Homo sapiens: one gene and its partner. The protein of the gene in region 1 interacts with the protein of each later gene in a pairwise test. Each region holds a gene or a part of one and is shown in the gene's direction. Other genes may lie near its edges. The genes, in order: TTC1 and SOX5.

The links.
Region 2: the proteins of TTC1 (region 1) and SOX5 interact in a two-hybrid assay, tested with the Homo sapiens proteins (one large-scale study listed by BioGRID and IntAct).

The regions. Positions count from the first base shown.
Region 1 is NC_000005.10:160,050,632-160,054,455, forward strand, and holds part of TTC1 (tetratricopeptide repeat protein 1), read left to right. Parts: intron 1-497; coding exon 498-552; intron 553-3,824.
Region 2 is NC_000012.12:23,533,484-23,537,307, reverse strand, and holds part of SOX5 (transcription factor SOX-5), read left to right. Parts: intron 1-638; coding exon 639-855; intron 856-2,785; coding exon 2,786-3,089; 3' UTR 3,090-3,824.

The DNA.
Region 1 (3,824 bases):
TTTTTTTTTTTTTTTTGAGAAAGGGTCTCTGACTCCCAGGCTGGAGAGCAGTGGCACAGTCATGGCATACTGCACCCTCAACCTCCCAGATTCAAGCAACCCTCCCACCTCAGCCTCCTGAGTAGCTGCGACTACAGACACATGCCAACACACCCAGCTAATTTTTGTATTTCTTGTAGAGACAGCATTTTGCCATGTTGCCCAAGGTGGTCTCAAACTCCTGAGCTCAAGCGATCCTCCCAACTCGGCCTCCAAAAGTGCTGGGAATATGGGCAGGAGTCACTGCACCTGGCCCAAACAGAACTTTTGTCTTTATGTAGCGCACCACAAACATAAATACTTGGGGTTTTTTTTTTTTATTTAATAGGATCATAGACATACTTAACTTGATCTTATTTCCACATTAGGATTCTTGTGTTTCTCAAATTCAAAATAAAGGGAAAGGTTTTGGTTTTTTTTTTTTTTTTACCAACCCTTGTTTCTCCTCTTTTCCTCAGAGATTACCTAAGCAAATTGAAGAACGTAATGAAAGACTAAAAGAAGAGATGTTAGGTAAGCTTACTTCTTACTTTGCTTGATCATAAACAGCTAGGAACCTAGGGTGGGGACATAGCGAATACTAGAGGAGAACACATGAGTTAGAAAGTTTCGGACTCTACCACAAGGCTACTGACTTCTGAGTTATTTTGACCCCAGAAGGGGCAGCGTGGCTTAGAGAGGGTATTGGCTTTTTTTGGAAACCAGATTTCCTTTTTGATTTTCTTGGAAATTTTTCTTGCCTGCAAGAATTTAAGCATAATTCAGTTCCCTGGGATTATGCTTAAATGGGATTTAAAATCCTAGGATACCACCAACCTCGATTTCAGATAACAATTACATAAAAACAGTTTAGTTTCTTCATTGAATAATCATTCCTTGAGGTTCATTAGGATGCAGTCAAGATCATGAGAATTTTTATTTAGAAAATGGCACTCAAAGTCCCTTTAGTGTTTGAGAACACACGAGAGGGCAGGAATTAGGAGTAAAGAGAAATCAGACTGGGGGTAGGGGTAGGGCAAATGGATTCATTTGATCCATGTTTAGTTATTTCTCATATTTGCCAAAGCATTTTAGAGTTGGAACCTCCCACGAGCAATCTGCTTAAGTAAGAGGAGTGAGGGTTCCTGAACACAGACTTAAGTCTTTTCCACATGTAACCTGTCTGATATTTCGCTGGTGAAGATCTGCCATGTATTTTCCTTTTTGAGTATTTTCTAAATCTGTTGTTTGAATTACATTTTATAAACTGCAATCATGTGGCCCTAAAGGAAAAATCATTTAAAATAAATTGAGCCTGTCTGGCATTTATGGCCTTCAGACATCAGCATCCAGACAATGGGAACAAATTTCCCAAAGGATCATTCTGATAGCCAAGTTGATTGAGAGGAGGCCATTAACCTAGACTATCCAGAGACTTTGGCCCCTGCCGGGTAGACTCAGACTGTAAAGACGGCTGCTTCCGATTCAGGATAGCTCTGGAGCCTTCCCCAGATTTTCCAAAAAAGGGAGGGGGATGGGGGAGCTTTTCCCCTAATTTACATATTTAATTAAACTTGGCCAGGCACGGTGGCTCCTGTAATCCCAGCACTTTAGGAGGCCAAGGTAGGAGGATTGCTTGAGCCCAGGAGTTCAAGGCCAGCCTAGGCAACATGGTGAAACCCCATCTCCACAAAAAATTAGTCAGGCATGGTGGCATGTGCCTGCCCATAGTCCCAGCTACATGGGAGGATCACTTGAGCCCAAGGGTTAGAGGCTGCAGTGAGCTATGATGGTGCCACCACACTCCAGACTGGGCAACAGAGCATGACCCTGTCTCAAAGAAGAGGGAAAAGAGCATTTTCTCACCTATTTTTACTAACAATGATGCTCTATTTTAGCAAAAAAAAAAAAAAAAAAAAAAAAAACTGTTTGCATTTAGTATTTGAATTTCTTGCTAAAAAAGATGACCTTGTGAATGGCCATAGTGGATCTGGAAGGCATTGGTCTCTTAGTCCATTTTTTTAAAGCCAGTCCAGTAAAGGGACTGGTGCAAACTGAATCTTACTGCCTATTGTTAGTTCCAGATGGAATTAAAACTTCCATTTGTCCTTGTCTTTATAAATTCTAATGCACCAGAATTTTCTGTCTCCAAGGCTTTGGGTTTTTCTTATGTCATTCTCTTCATTTGAAAAAATTCAAATTGAATTCATTCCCTCGGTTGCTTCTAAAATGAATTCACCTGCCATTAGACTTAACCAACTTAAGTTGCTTTGTAAATAATATGTGTTGTTACACATGTGTAGTTTGAATGGCTAGATTCCTTTTTTCCCTTAATGAGTATAAAAATCATGAATAAGATACTGCTCTAGGTGTTACCCCACAATAGATAACCTAGAAGAGAGAAATCACTCTTTACATGGAATTTCAGCCCCCACAAGAGCTTTTCTGGTATTCCTTCCTCCTTGTTGCTGATGAGGTAACTTTGGTTCATGTTCTGTGAGATTCCCTAGAGGCTAGACATTCTGAATGCAAATTAATATCACTTAGAAGTTCTGAGCAAGCTTTTCACAGTGGACTGCATCATCTTTATGCTAGTTCCTGTTAAAATGATGGCTTCTATGGAGAATAAGCAGTTAAAAATTTTTTAAATTGGGTAGTGTGGGCTGGGTGTGGTGGCTCACACCTGTAATCCCAGCAATTTGGGAGGCTGAGCCCGAGTTCAAGACCAGCCTGGGCAACATGGCAAAATCCTGTCACTAAAAAAATTAGCCAGGTGTGCTGGTGTGCACCTGTAGTCCCAGCTACTTAGGAGGCTGCTGTGGGAGGATCACTTGAGCCCAGGAGATCGAGACTTCAGTGAGCCACAATGATGCCACTGCACTCAAGCCTGGGTGACAGAGTGAGACCTTGTCTTTAAAAAAAAAGAAAATTATAAAATCAGGTAGTGTGATGCCTATGCCTGTAGCTTTTGTTCTTTTTATTCAGGATCACTTTAGCTTTCAGAGTCTTTTGTGGTTCCATACAAATTTTAGGATTTTTCTATTTCTGTGAAGAATGTCATTGGTGTTTTGACAGGGATTACATTGAATCTGTGGATCACCTTGAGTAGTACAAAATGGGTTTTTATTTAGATGTGTTCAGTATTCTTTAACTTGTTTTTTCTTCCATCTCTGTAATTTCCTTTTCATTAGAAAGAAGAGCTATGTACTCCTTGAGGGAAAAAATCCTGATAGGAATTATTAGTGGGTAGAACAATTATTTGCTTTGCCCTTTCTAGCCCATCATTTATAATCTTTAGAACAAGAGACCCAGGGTGGCCATTAGTCCTAGTGGCACAGTCCTTGCTGATCACAGAAGATGATCGTGATAGCATCAAGACGATCACTTGAGGAAAGTGGTCAGCAGCTGGAGTGGGGGTTGGTTGTTTTTGTTTGTTTGTTTGTTTGTTTGGTCCTTTTCTCTGGGATAATTAGCCTCCCAGCCATAATAACCAAGGAATGTAAGGTTTAAAAGGACTTAAGGGTATGTGTGGTTGATAGTGTGATGAGATGGAAATAGAGACCCTGGACATAGCATCCCAGGAGGCTCAGAGCATTTTTGAGGAGCTAGTCATTGATGCTTTATTTGCTTTCTCTCTAATGGAATGATTTCACAGTTTTCTTAAATAGCTGGGAAAAAAGTTGGCTGGGTACAGTAGCTCATGCCTGTAATCCTAACATTTTGGGAGGCCAAGGTGGGAGGATTGCTTGAGCCCAGCAGTTCGAGACCAGCCTGGGCAACATGGCAAGACCCCCATCTCTGCAAAA
Region 2 (3,824 bases), on another chromosome or scaffold:
TAAGATTGAGGTGAAAGGTAGGAAAAAGACATCAGTATGTCAAGGTTTCAGCACAGTGTCTGGCACATAGTAGTTACCCACTCCATGTTTATTAATATTATAATTTTAATTATAATTAAATGTTTAATCAAAGGAATTTTTAATTACTACCATTCCTGTAAGCTTAAAATACTTAAACATTTTGGGGAGGATGAGACTACATGATATATGTTGGGAACTTTTGTAGTAAAAAACATCTCCCACATAAAAATATTCAATAACTAGATAATTAGTCTCAGATTCAAAATGCATGATAACATATCATGTAACTTTTCTGTTCACATGTGAATTATATCATGATCTAATGTAGAAATGAGAAATGTATCCATTAAATTATCTATGAGCTTTAAGGGACATAATACAAAAGTTTGGCTAGAATGCAAACCAGAAAAAAAAAAATACTGCCCAGTGTTTATATCTTTAGGTACAAAACCACCACCACCTCTGTTCTTGTGGGATCTCACTAATCAAAAACAGGTTTATGTATTTCTGGGTTTTGGCTAACATCTCAACTTTAGATTTTCTTGTTCTCAGCCATATCACTTTCTGGAATGCTTAGAAGCTGTGCAAATTGGAATCCTAACCTCCTTTCTTCATAGGATCTCGCTGGAAAGCTATGACAAACCTAGAGAAACAGCCATATTATGAGGAGCAAGCCCGTCTCAGCAAGCAGCACCTGGAGAAGTACCCTGACTATAAGTACAAGCCCAGGCCAAAGCGCACCTGCCTGGTGGATGGCAAAAAGCTGCGCATTGGTGAATACAAGGCAATCATGCGCAACAGGCGGCAGGAAATGCGGCAGTACTTCAATGTTGGGTATGTACCTTTTAGTCATTTTTCTCATGGGGCAAACTTCCTGTTATACTTAATGGGATGTGAAACATATTTGTTCAGTTGCAAAAAGACATTTTGAAAAAGAATCTGAGCTCACAGTATTTTCAGAGACAAATAGTCTCCCACATGATCTTGAAAAATATGTCCATATGAATCCACTGCAAGTTCCTAGCTCTACCATGAGATTTGTTAACAACTGGTTTAAAAACAAGATATCTACAAGCAAATGATTTTGAAGTTTTCTATTAAAAACTTAGAAGTATAACTGGTTCTTTTCTTCATTGGTTTGCATTACTTCCTAAGCTTCACCATGATAAATTCTAAAACTAACAACTTTGTTGAGACAATACAAAATAAAAATCATTTCAAAAGCAAAAATACTTATTTCTAAATATAGAGAGGTTAGTGAGCTATCAAGGTACATGTGTGGCCTTTGTGGATCACACAAGCTAGGGATTATATTTAGGGTGTAACAAGGTTGGGAACAGGAGGTTTCATTCTGAATTGAGAACGCAGCTCCGAGATGTTTTACAATGCTCCCGTGGCAAGGTTGTTGACAGTGCTGTAGATGGGCTACAGAAATGCATTGCTTCTATAGAATTCTCTCAAAAACCCAAAATAAAGTTGTTCATATTTGAAACAGAAGTTAGTTTCTAAGAGCTTCTTAGAATAATAAATATTGTTCTAAATATGGGCAGAGAAGGACTCATAAAACCTTTCCAAATCTGCTCTGTCCCCTCCAGTTCCTTGGAAGAGGCTGCATGCTCTGTCCAGTGGTCTGTGATTCATATGCAAGCACATGACTCCTCACAAAGCTAAACACAATGCCCAACAGTTCTTGGGCAAATAGTAAACATACGAATGAATAAAAACAAGCATAAATGCACATCATCTATTCATCCTTTCCAATAGGACCACCTACATTATTTATAGGACCAGATGCAAAAATGAGGAGACAGGGTCTCTTGTTAAAAAGTTATTAAGAATTTCAAGTCTGTGGCAGCACAACTTTAAACCAAGTATGGGACCTTAGTGCAGTTGCACAGTTTGTACATCCATGAAGCTGCTCCTGCTTCCTACCACTACGAGGCCAGAACTGTTTCAGAGACTCAGTGGACAGTGTGAATTTGTTCAGTTCTGGTGTGTTCTGGGCAGTAAAGTTTTATTTTGAGAACTCTAATGCTTTAGGATTTTCCCATTAAAATTTAATTATCTTTAGATTTAATTCTAGGGAAAAATACTATTTCTGCATGTTATAATGAAAGAAAAATGAACTTGGAATCAAGGACCTGGGTTCTTCTGCTTCATCTTTCTGCACCTCAGTTTTTTAATAAAACAGTAGTAACAAACAGGATTAAGAATAAGATGGACAACACATGTCAATATCTTGTACTCTATAAAGCACTACCTAAACATAAGGTATTAGGCCTGGTGCGGTGGCTCACGCCTGTAATCCCAACACTTTGGGAGGCCGAGGCAGGTGGATCACCTGAGGTCAGGAGTTCAAGACCAGCCTGGCCAACATGGTGAAACCCCGTCTGTACTAAAAATACAAAAGCTAGCCAGGTGTGGTGGCAGGCGCCTGTATTCCCAGCTACTTGGGGGGCTGAGGCAGGAGAATCGCTTGAACCCTGGAGGGGGAGGTTGCAGTGAGGCAAGATCACGCCATTGCACTGCAGCCTAGGCAACAGGAGCGAAACTACGTCATCTCAAAAAAAAAAAAAAAAAAAGAAAAGAAAAGAAAAACAAGGTATTAAAGTTCAAGTAGGATGGAGTTTGAAAAATGTTAGGCAATTAGATAAAATTAGTACCTTAGAATTGGACATTGCTGAGCAAATTAATTATGTAGTAAAGTCCACATCTAACTATTCACTTACCCACGATGTCTTTTTGGAAATTCCTTTCTTGACAGGCAACAAGCACAGATCCCCATTGCCACTGCTGGTGTTGTGTACCCTGGAGCCATCGCCATGGCTGGGATGCCCTCCCCTCACCTGCCCTCGGAGCACTCAAGCGTGTCTAGCAGCCCAGAGCCTGGGATGCCTGTTATCCAGAGCACTTACGGTGTGAAAGGAGAGGAGCCACATATCAAAGAAGAGATACAGGCCGAGGACATCAATGGAGAAATTTATGATGAGTACGACGAGGAAGAGGATGATCCAGATGTAGATTATGGGAGTGACAGTGAAAACCATATTGCAGGACAAGCCAACTGATAAGGGTCAAAAGATTGTTGTGACCTTAGGACTTAAAGAAGCCCTAACTGGTTCATCCTTACCAGTGGCCAAGCACATTAACTTTCTCATACACTGACTGTTACTTTAACTGTTAGTCTTAAATAGTTGGGACATCAGCTGACTAATAGACCTCAGCCTCAAAAGGCTTGGAAAGAAAAAACAAATACAACAAGCAAACAACAATATCAACAACAAGAGATTGAAATAAGCTATGGGTAAAATAATGCCAGTAATTCAGCTGCTACATCCAAGCACTGAAGTCTTACCCGTCAACTTTTTTTTTTTTTTAAATAAACTTTATGGCTGTTTGTTCTACAATGTTCTAGAAATTCTCACTCAGGTACACAGTGCCAACAAGTGGCTTGTGAATGTGTTTTGTTGTTTTGTGCTACAATTTTTAAAAAGAAAAAAGTTTTGTTTTGTTTTTTGGGGTTTCTGGGTTTTTTCCTTTTCTTTTTCTTTCCTTTCATTTTTTTTCTTTGTAATGCACCTGACAGAAAAAAAAGAAAAATGAATTTCTCTTTACTTCTCTCCACCTTCTCCATCTCTCTACTTTAAAGATGGAAGTCTGTGCATGAGGGGAAAGAGGGAAAAAGAGCCTGTTTTTAACTTCCTTGCTATCCACCACAAAATAAGCAATTATTTTCTTTAGAGGACTTTATCTATTGCACACCACACTACATCTTTGAGCAAGTGCCAAATTTGTACTGAAGT